2 separate regions of the Homo sapiens genome follow, and region 1 is linked to region 2. Evidence: fine-mapped expression QTL. A gene starts in region 2. The other region holds a variant in brackets. All regions are shown on one strand. Distances are between the middles of the regions.

Region 1 (9,003 bases), 22 kb after region 2:
TTGTAGAGCCTAGATTCTAGAAGGGGGCATAATAAGCAATAATTTCTTTTAAAGGATCCTAAGTAGAGCAGGAGTCCTGGCGTGGGATGGAGGGGTGGGTAGCAATATTCAATACTATGGTCTCAGGAACCTCACCTGATAGGTAGGATTTAAGCCAGGACTGAAGGAGTTGTAGGAGGAAACTAAGCAGTTGTCTGGTGGAAGGGCATTTTGGGTACAGGGAACAGCATATGCAAAGGCTCTGAGGCAGGAGTGCACCTGGCTCCTTGAGAGCTGAGTGATATGAGAGGAAGCAAGATGAATAAGAGAAGCTGGGTGGCAGTGTTGGCAGATCGTGCTGGGCTCTGTAGGCCTTGCTAGGACTTTAACTTTGACTCTGAGTGAACTGAGGAACATAGTTCTGAGGTTCTGAGTGGTGGCATGACATGGCCTGACTTAGGTTTTGAAGATGTCACTTCCTGCTGTCTGCTGTGTTAAGCACTTAACTGCATTTTATTAGAATTAAATACTGGTCCATTTTGTTCCACGTGTCAAAATGACATTGTATCTGCTCTTTCCTTTCACAGGGTCCCCACAGTCCCAGTGAAGAACCTAAATGGGTCCAGTCCTGTCAACCCTGCCTTGGCAGGTAAGAGAAACCCCAGGATGCTCTGGGTTAAGGTAGAGAAATCAGAGTGATGAAATAGGTCATGAGCATTTGTGGAAAAAAAGGAGAGAATCTAGATATTAATGAAAGCAAATGGTGATTTTAGGAATTGCATGGGAAGGGTATGAAGAGTTTGGAAGAGAACTGATTACTAAAAGGAAAGCATGCAATTGAAGATAAGTGAGTGAATGAATAAGTTTCTGGGGAAAGTACAGGGTAGAGAATCCAGGAATTATGAGAACTTTCTGCTGGAAAGGAGGAGAGTAGGTTAATGGGGAAAGAGGAATTTGGGGAATGTTGAGAGCTAAGTCTCCAGTCTTTCCTCACCCATGCCCTGCCCCTTCCAGGAATCACTGGGATCCTCATGAGTGCAGCGGGGCTGCCTGTGTGTCTCACCAGGCCACCAAAGCTGGTCCTACACCCACCCCCCGTCAGCAAGAGTGAAATAAAATCCATCCCAGGGGTTTCCAACACAAGCCGCAAGACCACCAAAAAACAAGCCAAGAAAGGTACCAGCCTCTTGTCTCGTGGGGTACTGAGAGTCAAAGACTTGGCTGTCAGCCCTGAGTCTGCCTCAACCTCCAAGGGTCATAGCCACGGCTTCACCCTCTGTGCCTCAATTTCTGCATCTGTAAGTGGGCCTAACCAGTAAATCTTGACGATTATACCACAGCTGATGTGTATGGATCAGATGGAAACACCTTGAGAAATAAAAATATACAATGCAAAAGTATAGAAACATAAAAATATAAGGCGTGGTACAAAGAAAATATGTTAGAAGAGAAAGATGACTTTGGCATTGGAACCAAAACAGACTGGATTCAAATCGTACCTTTGTTTCTTGCAAGTTGTGTGACCACATGGAGCCCCTATTTTCTCATCTTTATAATGAAGTAAAAATAGTCACAACTGGTATAACTGGTATCCAGCAGGTATATCCTGGAATGCATCCATGACAGTTAGGAAGTAGTCCCTGTCCTGTGTCCCCCTAGAACCTACAGAAATCTCTGCTCTGAAATCCTCCTTTAGGAACCCCCTCCTACCTGCAGGCAATCCGGCAAATAAGGGGTCAATATCTGTACCTTCCTAGCACTGCAGGACCCCAGCTTAGCTCTGTGGCTTGTCTTTCTGGTCACTGGCATTAGTTGTTAAATTTGACCATCTCCCTAAGCCCCAATCTTGCAGGCTTGTGAAGTTTAAATTGGATCATGTGTGTGTTGCACTTAGCCCAGGGCCTGGCAAGAAATAGGCTCTTAATTACTAGAGCTTAATTCTTACAAGAGAAGCAGGGCAACTGGAGGAAAGGGCCTGCATCGAAGCTTTTGGCTGTTGCATGATCCACTTCCTCAAACCCTTGTCCTACTTTTCCAGTCCGTCAAGATTTCCCTGCTTAAATGAGCTCAATTGCCTTGCTCATAGTCTTATCGGAAATAACAGCATTTTACACTTTCCCACTCTTCCTGTTATTATTAATAGTGCATATCGGGCCCTTATCTGGCAGAGAGCTAAAGGGCAGTACATCCATTTGCTCATTCAATTGTCAAAGCAACCCTTTGAGGTAGTGCTATTGCTCATCCCCATTTCATAGGTGAGAAAACAGAAGCTTAGAGAAATTAAGGGAGTGGCCCAAGGTAGCACTGATCATTTTTCAGGTTATATCATCCCATCCTCTACCTTCAGGTTGGGCTACCTTTTAAGAGTCCAGTCCCCTGAAAAAAATCCCTAAATCATTGCAGCCCATCAGGATGCTTCCCAGAGGATCACCCTTCCCCTGCTGCAGGACTGTGCTGGCTGGCAGTGACAGTGCCATCCACAGCCAGGAAAGATTGTTCTGGAGTCGTGGGTCATAACTTCCTTGTTTCCCATAAAAATAATCACACTTTGACACCACATTATAAATTGAGACTACACTTAGCAAATTGTAAAATGAAGGTGGTAAGACTGCCTAACATCTATTTAACGTGTAACAGTTTGCAAAGTGCTGTTATCAAATCATTTGATTATAAGGAAGAGAAACCCACTCAACTCTTCTCAATTAAAAAAGTGGTTTGTTGAAAATAGGCAGAGAGATGTCAGAAAAGGGACTGCAAGAAATAAAGCCTTCTCGTCAAACCATCTCACTAGCTTTTCCACAATCCATACTCTCTTCCATGTTCTTAACTTAAATTGCAGAAGGAATTCCTCCCCTTTTTGCTTTTAACTTGCCTGATAACGTCCCCCTCTACCATGTCTAGCACGACAAGGCTGTTTGATCTCTTACCTCTGCCTTGGTGGCCCACTGAACCTCCTGTCTCTGCAGGTAAAACCCCAGAGGAAGTGCTAAAAAAATATCTACAGAAAGTCCGGCACCCACCAGATGAGGTGAGTTCAGGGTTAGAAGAGCGGGATTCACCTCTCCATCACCCACAAGCATTTCCTCTTCTGCTGTTGGTTTCTACAGGATATGGCGGGGGCTGCATTCCAAGTTCTCATGGATACAGAACTGGTCAGAACTGACACTGAGGGTTCAAGGTCCATGGTCCAGAGCTGCAGCTGCACCTCAATCTCTCCCGCCTCCCCCTTCAGCATAGTGCTGGTTGTTTTTAAGCTACCTTAACATGACAGTCTCAATTTAGGAAAAACAGTGTGATAAGCCACAAGAACTCACCTTAAAATGGGTTTGATACAGAACAGTGGTTCTCAACCAGAGACAATTTGGCCCCTGAGGGAACATTTGGCCATGTCTGGAGACATTTTTGGTCGTCATTATTCTCAGGACCTTGTGAGTAGAGCAGAGGCCAGGGATGGTGCTAACCACCCTACAATGCCCAGGACAGTCCTCACAGCAAAGAATTGTCCTCCCCAAAATGTAAATAGTTCTGAGGTTTAGAAACCCTGTTGGACATTTATTTAAATAGCCGTCCCTCTGGTACAGTTAAAATACAATTCCTTTACATTCCTTAAAAATTCACCTTAAGTAAAGCTCCTCAGTGGGCTTGTTGACAGTATTTGTTTCCTCCATAAGCCGTTGAAGGACAAAACAGAAGGACAGTGCATTGTTATAGCCCTCACGATTATGATAATTTAGATGATGAGCCCAAGTTAATCAGTACCAGGAATTATTTCAGGACGTTGTTGTGTAAAGACAAAACGATATTTAGATTCCAGAAAGCACTTACACCCTGATTTGTGGGTGTTTTAGAAGAGAAGTGGTAAGAGCTCATCTGACCTCTGAGATCATGTGGAAATCTCCCAGGCTGAGTGAGAGCTGACAGCCTCTCTGCTGTGTCTCCTCCCTCCCCAGGACTGCACCATCTGTATGGAACGCCTCACGGCCCCCTCAGGCTACAAGGGCCCGCAGCCTACGGTAAAACCTGACCTGGTAGGGAAGCTGTCCAGATGCGGCCACGTCTACCACATCTACTGCTTGGTTGCCATGTACAACAATGGGAACAAGGTCAGTGCCAGCCTATGGGGCTCCTGCCACCCTTCACACTGGGCTCTGGAGTAGCAAGATGGTGAAGGCCCTTTAGGGCCCTTGCTCAAGTGATCTGGGAAGTCTTAGAGGTTATCCCTAGGCAAGAGTGATGATCTTGGCTGTTCTCAGCAGGATCAGTTCTTTACTAAATTACAGTGCTGGTAAGACCTGTCTTCACCTTCCCTTTTGGGCTGTGCTATCTAATTCTCCATCTTCGGTGTCAGGTCTAAGAGTGGGGTAGGTTTTGCCCCTGAGGGTTCTGAGGGGAGTGGCCCATTGTCATGGCCCATTGCTAGGTGAAGTGTGCTCCCATCAGTGAGAGAGAAGGAAGTTCTTATCACAGCGCTAGACCCATGGTGAGTATTCGTTCATACCATTGTAAATGGGTTTCCCAATCACCCTTTCTTCCCCAGGGTTAGTGATTTTCAGCTACAATTTTCTTTGGACAATTTCAAAACACCCTTGATTGGCCCTTCAAAGGTACTAAAGACTGTTGCCAAAGTACACCTGGTAATCCCTGCCCTAGAATCCCACTGTTGGAAGAGGGGAAGGCTGTTTGGGATGCTTGTCTTGTCTATTATCTGACAATGCAATGGTATCCCCTCATTAGAGCTGGTTCTTTGGAATCTGGAAGACTCCATAGGTGATCATTCTCTCCTTACAGTGTCTGAGCATTTCCTAAGTCATTGACTCATGTTCTTTCGTGTACCTGAGATAACTTTTACTCCCTATTTCCATGAGTACTTATTTCTCCAGGCCAAGCTTAGATTACATCAGAGTCTGAGATCTCCCTGATAGCTCCCAACCTCTCACTAAGCAAGAAGTATGTCTGGATTATACGTCTGTCTGGTCTGGTCTAT[A/ACGT]CGTCTCTTACTGTGGGAAAGAAGTAGAGGTAAGAGAGGTGGGAGACCTGAGCTTGAATCCTGGCTTATTAGCTGAATGACCTTGGACAAGGTTTTCCAATCTCTGAGAGAGACTTTCCATCTGGAAAATGGAGATTAAAACTATACCTACTTTATGGGGTCTTATGCTATTATTATTCAAATTGATATCGCCTTTGTATTAAAGGCTGTAATTTTTTCCTTCATCTTCATGTAGCCTATTTGATTGAAGTTCCCAAAGTGCTTTCTTGGTGTCCCTGAGAGACATGCTTATAGTGGTGGTCAGTCATTGATGGGGGATGCAAATCTGGATCACTTGCTCACTTTCCCAACCCTGGGCTAAAAGGATTCATTGGGATCTTGCATTTCAAGAAGTTATTTTGGGCTTAAAGGGGTTTCTTAGCACATTTGTTCCCTATTTGATGTCTATATTCAAGAAGAATATGGTAACTCTACATTTATTTCCATGGGGCTTTCAAAAATGTTTCTCAAGAGTCTATGCTTTATTCTCTTTTGCACTAATACTTTGAAGCATGTGTTTTTATTTTATCAAACACATGAGAGAAAAGGGCCCAAGAAGAAAGGAGTGATTCACCCTAGGTCATGAAGCAAGTCAAGGCCAAAGCAGAAAGTGGGAACCTGGTTTCAGAGAATAGTCACCCTGAATACGAGCTATTGCTTTAAGCGAGTAGACTGGAGAAGTCCCTAAATAGCTCAGCAGAGGATCCCTGTCTTCCCGAGGAGTTGGGGATGTCCTGGCAAGCTTTCATCCCAGCTGCGCAGCAGCACATTTTACACACGTTGCTCCCAGCCCATGCGCCTTCCTTCTCTTTGCCCCTCCTTTTTGCGAGCCTGGGAATAGGATTCGGTGTCCAGGCCCTCCTCCAGGCAGCACCTCACCAGGTCCTGCAGTGAAACCGTCACCCTGTACACCCCTGCATCCAGAACTGCCTCTTCCCACTAATGGAGCCACCGAGTTGCAATGCAAAGCTGGGGGTTTAAACAGACCCCACACCCTGACAAGCAGGAAGTCCTTTAATCTTGCTGTGCCTCGATTTTCCTCTCTACAAAAAGGGGCTAATAATTTCTTCCAGGCCATTGTCAGAAGCTAAAGCCTAAATGAAACAAGAAATATTAAACTCTTTATAGTATGATTTAAAGCACTATAATTACTGGCATCATTCTCTCTTCTAGGTATTTGTGCAGACCTTACACTCTATCCTTCTAAGCAAATTCATAGCTATTCTTCAAGGACCATTTTCTTAAAGTTATCCTCATTTACTCCAGCTCTTAGTGGCCAATTTCTCTTTTCATAGCAGTAGTTTCCAAACCTGTATGAGCATCAGTCTTTCCATGGAAATTATAAAAATGCTAATAACATTTAGATACACCACATGCTAAGATCTTCCTATAGATTATCTCATTTAATTCTCCCAACAACCCGATGAGACAGATATTTTTTATCCTTCTCCTATAAGGGAAACTGAGACTCAGAGAAGTTAATTAATTTGTCCAAGGTCACACAGCAGTCAGATGGCAGAGCTAAGAATTACGTCTAGGCAGTCTGATTTTCACATTCACAGCCTGAAACATTATGCTTTGCAGCTTCCCAGTTCTTACTCAGTGGACCCGATGTGGTGCCCAGGCATCTGTGTGATTAACAAGCTCTGTGGGTGATTCTGATGCTCAGGAACTGGGCAGTTGCTGCTCTCCAGGTCTTTCTGTCTGTTCCACCCATTTGGTACTGAGTGGCTGAATAATGACTCCCTGTGTAGGCTCCTGCCCTAGAGAGCTGGTCCCCTCCTCAGGGACAGGGGCTTCTCTTACATATCCCTCAGCATGGAGCATGGGACCAGTTGTGGAATTTACCTCCTATTACTTTGGAGAAAGCAGAAATAGCCTAGGTGACTGGGCTGGGAGGGAAAAACTAAGATCTATCACTCACCAGGGTGCATTTTGTTCCCCTGGCCCTTCATCTCTGGTACCTTTTGGGACTGGGTGGGAAAGTTATTACCAAAACTGTTTCCCAATCTGGCTCTTCTGGCCTTGGCCCCTCAGGATGGAAGTTTGCAGTGTCCAACCTGCAAGACCATTTATGGGGTGAAGACAGGCACCCAACCTCCAGGGAAGATGGAGTACCACCTCATCCCCCACTCCTTGCCTGGCCACCCAGACTGCAAAACCATCCGGATCATCTACAGCATCCCCCCCGGCATTCAGGTGAGCCTTTCTCTCAGGTGAGCCTTTCTGTCACCCCTTGGTTTTTATTGTTCTATGTGTTTGTAGGTAAAAAGTTACATATGAAGAGTCTCCTTCCCACACTTTTCCGCCATCTACCCAGCCTTGCCCGCTGACACTACATCCCCCGACTCAACACTATTGTTCTGACTTTCCTATGTATCCTTCCAGGATTCTTTGTGCACACACAACAGAAAATCGCATCCACCCTTCCCTTTTTTTTTTCACAAACAGTGACATTTAGGCACATTGTTTGGCACCCTGCGCTTTTCAGTTAACAATGTAGTCTGTAGATCTTTCCACATCAGTATAGAGAGAGCTTCCTCGTTCTTGTGTCTGTGTAATCATCCATTGTATAAATGTACCACTATTTGCATTCAGCAGTCTCCATTTGATGGGCATATGGATTGTTGCCAATCTTTGGCTACAACAAATAATGCTGGAATGAATAACCTTGTACACATGTGAATATATCTGTAGAATAATTTTCCAGAAGTGGAATTTCTTTGTCAAACGGTATTTGCACTTGTAATTTGATAGCTATACTTGGCTTTGATTTTGGTGGGCATTTCTTTCCTCTTTTGATTCTCTGAAAGACAGTCCTGAAGAACAAATCTGAACACTATTCCTGCCAGTAAATACAAATGTGGCACCTTCCTTCACACAATGAAGCTTTTTCTGAGTGTTCTGGGCCGTTGACTGTATGCATTTCTTTAGCAAATATTAATTCTTCTATCCTCTTTTCCTCCCTCCTAGTTTTCTTCTTCCATTTTGTCTTTTATTTAACAAACATGGAGTGTGGATTATGGTCCAGACATGTTCTAGACATTGGAGAAGCAATGAGCAAAGTAGACGCAATCCTTGCTCCTTGAAGCCCCTATTCTAGTGGGGCCAGGAAGGCCATAAAGGAAACAAATGAATAAACAAGGTACCTCCAGATAGTGATCATCGATGTGGAGGAAATAAAACAGGAAGTTGTGATAGCCTGTAAAAGAAGTGAATAATTCATAGTTCTTCCTGGAGGGGCTTACCAGCCAGTCAGGGGAAGATAAATGTACATCACTAATAAAACCTCTGAGATGCAACGTAGACAAAGTGAGAACACAGGCCTTCAAAGTCCAATGGACCTGGGTTCCCCTTCCTAGCTGAGTCTTTATTAGCTGGTGCCTTCAGCCCAGGGGTTCCCAACCCTCAGGCCACAGAAGGGGCCGCACAGTAGGAGGTGAGTGATGGGTGAGCCAGTAATACCACCTGTGCTCTGCCTCCTGCCAGATAAGTGGCAGCCTTAGATTCTCATAGGAACACAAACTCTATTGTGAACTGTGCATGTGACGGATCTAGGTCGTGCACTCCTTATGAGAATCTAATGCCTGATGATCTGTCACTGTCTCCCATCATGCCCAGATGAGGCCATCTAGTTGCAGGGAAACAAGTTCAGGTATCTCACTGATTCTTCATTATGGTGAGTTGTGTAATTATTTTGTTATATATTGCAATGTAATAACAATAGAAAGAAAGTGTGCAATAAATGTAATGCTCTTGCATCATCCCAAAACCATCCCCCACCACCCCGGTCCATTGAAAAGTTGTCTTGCACAAAACCAGTCCCTGGGGCCAAAATGGTTGGGGACAGCTGTTTTAGACAACAGGCCCTTGACCTTTTGGAGCCTGATTTCTTCACCTGCCCAGCCAGGAGCCCAATTGGCAGAGGTTTGGTGAGAATGGGAAATAACGTTTGCCTATGCATATTGAAGAATGAGCACAGTACCAAGGTGCTCAATACC
Region 2 (9,003 bases):
CCCAGACTCAAGCGATCCTCCCACCTCAGCCTCACAAGTAGGTGAAACCACAAGCCTGCACCACCGCGGCCAGCTAATTTTTGTATTTTTTGTAGAGACAGGGTTTCCCCATGTTGCCCATGCTGATCTCCAGCTCTTGAGCTCAGGCAATCGAACTCCTGACTGGGCTTCCCAAAGTGCTAGGATTACAAGCTTGAGCCACTGTGCCCAGCCCAATATTTAGAATATAAAAAGAACTCTCTAATTTCAATAATAGAAAACAGAAACCAGCAAAAGACCTGAACAGATATCAAAGAGCATATATGGCAAATAAACGCATGGAAAGATGTTCAACATTATTAGTCAATAAGGAAACAAGTTAAAAACAATGAAATAACTCTACACACTTACCAAAATGGCTAAAATAAAATATACTGACCAAAAAATGATGGTGAAGATGTAGTGACCAGATCATGGGTATATTGCTGGTGAAAATTCAAAATGGTGCAGCCACTTTAGAAAACTGGCAGTTTGTTAAAAAAGCTAAACATGCAACTACCCTATGACCTTGCCATTGTACTCCTAGGCATTTATCACAGAGAAATGGATACTTTACCTTCACACAAAAACCTGGATGAGAGTGTTCATAGTAGCTTTATTCATAATAGCCCAAACTAGAAACAACTTATATGAACTTCCATGGATGAACAGTAAGGTGGTCCATGGATACTATGGAACACTACTTAGCAATAAAAAGAAACAAACTTCTCTTGATACACACAACTTGGATGAATCTTTAGAGAATTAAGCTGAGTGGAAAAAGCCTATCTTAAAAGATTGAATGCTCTATGATCCATTTGCATAATATTCTTGAAATGACAAAATCATAAATATGGAGAACATATTAGTTATTGCCAGGAGTTATGGACAGGATGGTAGTGGGGAGGAATTAGTGGGTGTGACCTTTTAGGGCAACATGAGAAATCCTTGTGGTGTGGAAAATGTATATTGTATACAAAATGTGTATTGTATAATGTGTGACACAATGGTATTATATCAATAATGGAGCAGAATTGTAACCATTCTGTATCTTAACTGTGTCAATATCAGCAATGGTATTGCACTATAGTTTTCCTATAGTTTTATGGGATGTTGAGGATACACAGGCTCTGTCTGTTTCTTATAACTGCATGTGAATTTAAATTATTTTAAAATAAAAAATTAAAATGCAATGCATCTTCTGCCTGGCTTTTTCTCTTGCCTCTCGTTTATTTGGAAACTAACTTCTGTGTTGTGAGAATGCCCATCAATCACATGGACAGGCCATGTGTAGGTACTTGGGCTGATAGCCCTAGTTGAGTGCCCAGATAACAGCCAGTATCAAGCAGTAGACTTATGAATGAGCAAACCTACAGATGATTCCAGCCACCTGCTTTCCTGAGAGCTCCCTTGAGCTAATGCTGTGTGTAGCAAAGACCAGCTGTCCTTGGAAGCCCTCCCCAAAGTGCAGATGTGTTTGAAAAATAAACGCTTGCTGCTGTTTTTAGCCACCAGTTTTAGGGTGCTTTATTACATAATAATAGGTAATTGAAAAAAAAAAGGGCTTTGTCTATGAACATTCCACAGAAAAAGAAGAGAAGCGGCTTTTTCACTGAATCTTTGTGTTAGACAATGACGACCTTTTTTGAAGTATCATCAAATTGTACCTTTGAACAGTTCAAAACTGGCTTCATAGTCTCAATTAGTGAGGTTTTATTATAGCCATCATATGTTCAAATTAAAAATTTGGCATATCATTTGGTTAAAGATTTTTATGCCACTTATGAGTACAGGAGACAATTTGGGAGATATAGTTTGGATACTAAAATGGAATGTCGGCCAGGCACGGTGGCTCATGCCTGTAATCCCAGCACTTTGGGAGGCCAAGGCGGGCGGATCACCTGAGTCCGGAGTTCGAGACCAGCCTGGCCAACATGGTGAAACCCCATCTCTACTAAAACTACAAAAATTAGCCGGGCCTGGTCACAGGCACCTGTAATCCTAGCTACTGGGGAGGCTGAGGCAGGAGAATCGCTTGAACCTGGGAGGAGGAGGTTGCAGTGAGCCGAGATCATGCCATTGCACTCCAGCCTAGGGGACAAGAGCAAGATTTTGTCTCAAAAAATAAATAAATAAATAAAATGGAATTTCTGAGATTTTCAGGGTTTATGGTACAGATTATTTGAAATTAGGATTGTGTTAGAAGATCTAAGAAATGTATATACATATATAATAATTATTTATACATAATTATAAATTATTATTTCTAATTGGGTCATGATAAACTATAAATTATCATGGATTATTAAAATACAAATATTTTACATCTATAATTTACTATTAATGTCAAGTCATACACACACAAACACGAGGGGACTTCCAAAAGTTTGTGAAAAATAAAATTAAAAAACAAAATAAAAAATGTACACTTTATTTCTCAACATAAGCACCATCAAGTTCAAGATATTTTGTAGGTGATGATATGAATCATTTAGTCCATCACTAAAGAACTGAGTGTCCTGGGACCCTAACCATATCAATGCAGTTTTACTTTACTATAGAAAAACAGATGCTCTTTAAAAAATTTTTTAAGATTAGGAAACAAAAAGAAGTCAGAGGAGCCAAATCAGGACTGTACAGCAGATTAAAAGATTTTCCATCAAATTGCTCACAAAAGTGCGTTTGTTTGATGAGAGGAATGAGCATGAACATTGCCATGGTGGAGAACGACTCTGGTGAAGCTTTCCCAGGTATTTTATCCTAAAGCTGTTGCTAATTTTTGCAAAATACTCTCATATTAGGCAGATGTTATTGTTCTCTGGCCCTCCAGAAAGTCAGTAAGTAAAATGCCTTGAGCATCTCCAAAAAATTGTTGCCATGGTCTCTGCTTTTGACCAGTGCACTTTTGCTTTGACTGGACCACTTCTACCTCTTGATAGCCATTGCTTTGGTTGTTCCTTGTCATCAGGATTATACTGGTAATGTTTCATCTCCTGTTACAATTCTTCAAAGAAATGTTTCATGATCCTGATCCCACCCATTTAAAATCTCTATTGAAAGGCCTGCTCTTGTCTGTGGCCAACCTGGGTGCAATGGTTTTGGCACCTATCAAGGAATGGAAAGTTTAATTTCTTTGTCAGAATTGTGTAAGCTGAACCAGTTGACATATCTATGGTGTAGGCTATTGTTTTGACTGCTAATCCTTGATCCTCTTCAGTAAGGGCATTGTCTTACCCTTCTTAGTGTCTCAAACTAGATCCTGTTCAGACATGTTATAACAAGTTAGTATGAGTTTATTTGGGTGCAAAAAAACAATTTGAACTACCAGCCTAGTTTTTTCATAATATGCATTTTCCATAAAATTTTAAAGACCCCTCTCATTTGTGTGTATATGTGTGTATGTGTGTGTGTGTATTCACTTCCTCTTGCAAATGAATCAGACTACATACAAACCTTCTCACATGTCATAAGATATTTTTATTCTGCTGTAATACTCTGTTGTGTTTAACATGGAAGATACAAGAAGACCAGATACAAAACTAGGCTGGACATAGGCAGGTAGGCGTCAGTTTCCTTCTGCCTTCCATTCGCCTTTCAAACAGCTCATCTAACATTTGCTGGTAGCCTGCTTATCTAGTTTAGATTTTTTTCACCTTGGAATTTCTGGCTTAGCTGGTCAGGTGCTATATTTTCGCTGGTACTTCCAATATCCCCTTGAATCATTACTCTTCACTTTTTGATTCATACTTACCAAGACTATAAGAAAGTTTCCTGAGTTTTGATACTTTCCATTTTTATGACTAGAAATAAAAGTAGCCCAATAAATTTTTAAATTACTTTTTCTTCAGTTTGCCTTCTGTTTCTTTTCCAGAAAATTCTACCCCCATTTTCTCCCTTCCCTTCTTTCACACTGAGACACTTCTACATTGCCTGTTATTGTGCCACCTCTGTGTTGTATAGGACATGCTATGGAACAGGCATTTTCTTTTGAGACAGCCCAACTAAATTTTGAATACTGGTTTCCCCTCTAACTAGCTATGTAATCTAGGGCAAATAGTTTAAATTCCTTAAGTCCTGTCATTTGTAAAATGGTAATAATAATGGCCTATGATATAATTAGTCGAGGTATCCTTGTTTTCTTTTTGTTCTTCTAATTCTGAAACTCGACATTTTAATGAGTGGTATTGTTTAGGTTGGATTAGGAACAGTCCCCAAATAAGGGAGAGGCCGACTAGGCATTTTGGAGGCCAAGCTGTGCAAGAAGACCAGAAAGAACAAAGCTCAGAGGTTCCTTGAGCCTGGTGCCTTTAGGGGCCTGAAGAAGAACAGATCTCACACTTTTTCTTTTGCTTTGTATTTAGAACTCTGTTGGGAGAAAGATAAAGGTAGAAGGATGCAAAATTCTAACAATGGGAGAAATGACAGCTGCAAGGAGAGGGAGGGGGAAGCAACTCTTCTAAAACATAAAAGGGTCATATGATATTTATGAAAAAATTGATTATTTCAAAAAGATTCACAATCCCATTCTCTAACACATAATCTATTTTTACTTTCCCGCATCCTATAACTTGGATCTTGATAAGACTCGATTCGTTGTTTTATGTGGTTTGCAATCTCAACAAAACAAAATTTGTGTTCTTTGACAAGGATAATGCATAATCCTGACTTCAGTCTTCCCTTTTAGTCAGAACCTACCTATTTAAGGTTATTTTCCATATTAACTATTGATGATCAAAATAAGTCTAACTCGTGTTTTTCCTAGTGTTTCATAATTTTAGTTACAGAAACGATGCAGATAAAATTAATCTAACATGCGTCTTCCTGACTCTAGTACGTTGAATCTGGCCAGAAAAACCACATTTGCTCTCTACGTAGGTAATATAAATCCATCATTAGCGAAATTGCTGCATCCCTTTGGACTGGGTCTCATTAGCAGAGGTTGGAGTGGCCACTGGCCGGCACACGACACTTTAGGCCAGCAGGGGGCGGGTAAGCTCCAGGGCACTCGCCCGAGCAGCAGGGGGCGTGTCTTCTGCTTCCTTGACGGACAGCTAAGGATGCGGGAGAGGATGAGGTAATAGGAGCCGGGGCAAGGAAGGAGTTGGGGTGCGCGCGCGTGTGTGTGCGACTGTGAGTGTGCCAGTGCGTGCGCAAGCCCCGAGACAATGCGTGTCTCCAGTTCGCGCTGCGGACACTGATCATGCTGCATTAAGGAAAAAAAAAGAGAGAGAGAGAGAAAATTACATTTGGGGGAAGGAGGCTGCAAAGTTGCGGCTGGGCGACAGTGGTGGTCCCGGGGCCGTGTCATGGCGGGTCGCTTCTCTGCATCAAGGAACCAGGGAAACACACGCGGGCGCGGGTTTGCCTTAGCGCCCTGCTTGGGAGGGGTGGTTCATTCTGGAAGGAACTGAGCAGAGCCACAGGCAGGGGGAGCTCTCCCAGCGGCGGGGACTGCAATTCGTGCGGCGAAGGGGTGGGGAGGGAGGGAGAGAGGGGAGGGGACCAGAGCGTGCCATTCCGAGCGCGGCCGTGCGGCGAGATCCCACCCCGGCGTCTGCAGAGGCCGAGGCGCAACTGGTGCGAGGGCTGGGTCCTTGCCTCGCCGTCAGCCCCAGCTCGCGGCCGCCGGGGCTCGGGCCGCGCGCCCGCCGAGTGGCTTTTGCAAGGCGGGGGCCTGTTTGCAGAGAGCCGGGCATTTGCATGAAGCGACTCGACCCCACAGAGCAGCGGCAGCAGCAGCGGACCCCGGCGGCGGCGGCGGCGCGCGGTCCCAGCCAGGCGGCCCCGGTGTCCCGGCCCCGGTGGATGCACGGCTGGGGAGGAGCCCATGGGCCGGAGCTGAGGCTGCCCGGGGCGGCGGGGCGCGGGGCAGGGGGCGCGGTCGAGGCCCGGAGGCGGCGGCGCAGGAGGAAGCGGAGGAGGTCGGGCGCTCGGGGCCCGGGAGGCGGGCCGCGCAGCGCCGCAGCCCCGGGCTCGCCATGCTCCTGGCCTCGGCCGTGGTGGTCTGGGAATGGCTGAACGAGCACGGCCGCTGGCGTCCCTACAGCCCAGCGGTGAGCCACCACATCGAGGCGGTGGTCCGCGCCGGCCCCCGCGCGGGGGGCAGCGTGGTGCTGGGCCAGGTGGACAGCCGTCTCGCGCCCTACATCATCGACCTGCAGTCCATGAACCAGTTCCGCCAAGACACGGGTGAGCCAGCCGCCCCTGACCCCGCCCCGCCTGCTCCCACCTTCCCAACCTGCCAAGGTACCTCCCTCCCTGTGAACCCACCTTGGCCACCTAGTCGGCACTTCTGTGCAGCAGTGTCACCAAGAGGTGGTGGTGGGAGGCGATTCACTCCGCTGAATCCTCGCAGGATCCTCCCTCCCCCTTAAACATCCATGCAAATAGTATCAGTGTTGTGGTTTTGCAAACCCAGCTTCAACCTAGTCGGTAACAATCCACTCCCCACCCCTTTCATGCCCCCGCTTTTCAGCAGTTGGTGGCCCTAAGTCTTTCTATGTAGAAATTCTAGGGCCGCCCCAGACTACAGGCAATCCCAGCCCTTCGCAAAGGCTTCCTGCCCTCATCCCGTGGCGGCCGGCACCTTGGCTGACCTGACCCTGTTTTGCTTCAGGCACGCTGGGGCTTGCCACACGTCCCCTCACCCCCGATCTCACTGCCTCTGCGTCTCCTGTGTGGGATGCCTCCCCGCAGCTGGGTCCTGGGTGTGGGAACTGGGGGAGGAAGAAGGGATTCCCCGGAGGTTCTCGCTACAGTCGGGTAAGGGAAGCGCCGGGCTCCCTGGGAGGAGAGACTAGGGCTGGGGTACCCTGGACGCCGCGGCATTGGCGAATGCCTCTGCTACACACTACATGCGCGGAAGCAACAGGCCGGAGCAGATGGAGAGAGGAGGGGGAGGCTCGGGGCTTCGGAATGCATGGCAGGGAAGCCGCTCCCTTTGTCTGCGGAGGAGGAGGACGCAGATTCCTAAGGAGAAACTGTCCCCAGGCTTCCTCTTGAAACCATAGCCTGTAAGGAACCCATGGTCTCCTGGAGCGCCAAACTCCTATCTTTTCATGAGAATCAAGTTGTCACTGTAGCCAGCACAAACCCGCTTCCCAGCTGACCTGCCTTTCCAGGTCAGAGCCAGGAAGGGAGCCTCCAGGATGGGGCCTTGGGGGGTGGGGAGTGGGGGTGCTGCCCAAGGGAGAGCAAAACTGCCTCTCTTTGCTCGGTCCTTGCTTAATCGATGACCCGGGAAGAGTTTCTGCCTCCGTCAGTGACAGGTGGGGAGGGGGCCATTGTTTCTGGAATTCTGGCTCGGCTTTCCCAAGAGTGCAACCGAGGAGCCTGGAGAGGCCGGTGTGCTGGGGAGGACGTAGAGAAGATGACTCGGAAAGGCCCTCCCCAGTGAACAGCTGTTTGAGCAGAGTCTCTCTGCTTCCTTGGAAAGCCCCCACATCCTGTGTGCTAATTAGGATTGTCATGGGAAAGGGGTATCTTTCCACCCTCATGTCCCCATCTTTAGTCATAACTCCCAGCAACCCCTTTGCCAAGGACTCTGCAGACACTGGCTGATTGAGGAGAGCTTTCTGGGGAGAGGATTCTGGAAGTGTTAGAATCTGGAGGGGCTTCAACCGTGTGTGGAGCTGAGGGAGACTGGGAGGAGCAGAGAATAGAGAGGAATGTGGGGAGATTGAGAAAGAGGATTAAGTGTGGCTGAGGGGGAGGGAGAGAATGTCATTGCGCAACTTGGGTAAAGGTTGTGGAGGTGAGGGTGGAGGCATCAGAAGGTGAGGGTGGAGGGGGTGTGTGTTGGGCGGAGCTGAGCCACGGAGGTGGGACCAGAGAGAGAGAGAGAGACCAGCAGTTAAAGCATCTGACAGGGGATTCCAGTCCTGGAAAAAAAAAAAAGCAGGTGTTACCTTTTCTATTTCAGAGTAAATCTCTACAGCATTTGGAAAACCACCCTTGTGACAGAAACGTCTCAGCCCCTTTCCCACATTTGGAAAGGGCAAAGGTGGAATCTGTGTTTGGGGGTACTTAGGATAGGCAAGGTATCTACAAAGGTTCATGACCCTTTCTACAGAAGCGAAGTTGTAGAGAAAACTGGGTGGAAGGAAAGAAGCTACGTTTCCCAGGTCTGATCACTCTTACCTGAGGACTGCCTGGTGGTGAGCAATTTAGTCAGAGGCTGGCGCTCCCTGGACTTTAAACCTCAGGCAGAGAACTTGCCCTGAATCATTTTAAAGGCTGCCTCAGGGTGTGTTTATCATCAGACTGCTGTGGTTTCATCCGCTCATTGCTAGAGTCAGTCAGCCATCCTGAATACCTCTCTGCTGTGCGCCAGGCCCTGTGCTGGGTGCTGCGGACACTGGGCTGAATTCCCAGAAAAGCTGGGTCTGTCAGGGCGCTTGTCAAAGAAGAATAGAAGAATCTCTGGGTTTCTTAGCTCTGAGCCCCCTCCTCTCCCTTCTCCACCAACACACTCATAGTTCCTCTCAATCTCATTGATGAGGCCATGACAGGGTAGGAACTTTAAACCAGTGGCTCCCAGGCAACCTCAGCTAAGCCCTTGCAATGTTTAATTAAATTACCCACCATCCTTAAGCCATAATTCAAAGCTGGGAACCAGAAACATCCCCATAAACAAAAGAGATCTGGAAGTCCCCTGCCCAGAGGCGATTCCTCTCCTTTTTTGTTGCCTCCTCTGTATGGGGACATTTCCTGACATGAGAGCTTTGTCTTTTTAGAAGTTGCTTGCTCTGCTGCTGATAGAGTCCTCAGGCTCTCCACTCGCCTGGGCTCCTGACCTCATCCAGCCTGTCTCCAGGGAGATGGCTGGGAGGTCCCAGACACCCGTCTGCCCGCCTCTGTTTGCCCTGGGCCCTTCTCCTTCCCCAGACTGCCTAGAGGTCTGATCTTATTTGCATTCTATGCCAGTCTTCTCTAGGCATTTTGGGCTAGAGAATCTGGAATAAGGGTAGAGATGGGGTGAGATAG

Evidence for each region. PIP is the estimated chance that this variant, and not a neighbour inherited with it, causes the effect.
Region 1: its variant is fine-mapped to the expression of DTX4 in tibial nerve (GTEx, PIP 0.97).

Annotation. Positions count from the first base shown.
Region 1 is chr11:59,188,169-59,197,171 of GRCh38, forward strand. DTX4 (deltex E3 ubiquitin ligase 4) reads left to right here. Exons shown (of 9, transcript NM_015177.2): 3 at 567-628; 4 at 994-1,155; 5 at 2,946-3,007; 6 at 3,930-4,082; 7 at 7,040-7,201. LOC124902675 (a long non-coding RNA gene) reads right to left here and starts at 3,934. Exons shown (of 4, transcript XR_007062682.1): 1 at 1,479-3,934. The variant A/ACGT (reference allele first, on the strand shown) is at 4,964.
Region 2 is chr11:59,166,600-59,175,602 of GRCh38, forward strand. It overlaps DTX4 (deltex E3 ubiquitin ligase 4), which reads left to right and starts at 5,533. Exons shown (of 9, transcript NM_015177.2): 1 at 5,533-6,207. The coding sequence starts at 5,997. LOC124902601 (basic proline-rich protein-like) reads right to left here and starts at 6,846. Exons shown (of 2, transcript XM_047427951.1): 1 at 6,666-6,846; 2 at 3,476-6,131. The coding sequence starts at 6,846. The coding sequence ends at 5,323. It overlaps LOC124902675 (a long non-coding RNA gene), which reads right to left. Exons shown (of 4, transcript XR_007062682.1): 4 at 7,100-7,898. RefSeq lists enhancers at 4,670-5,210, 5,297-5,591, 6,219-7,047, 6,490-6,599 and silencers at 5,470-6,039, 6,100-6,149, 8,297-8,366.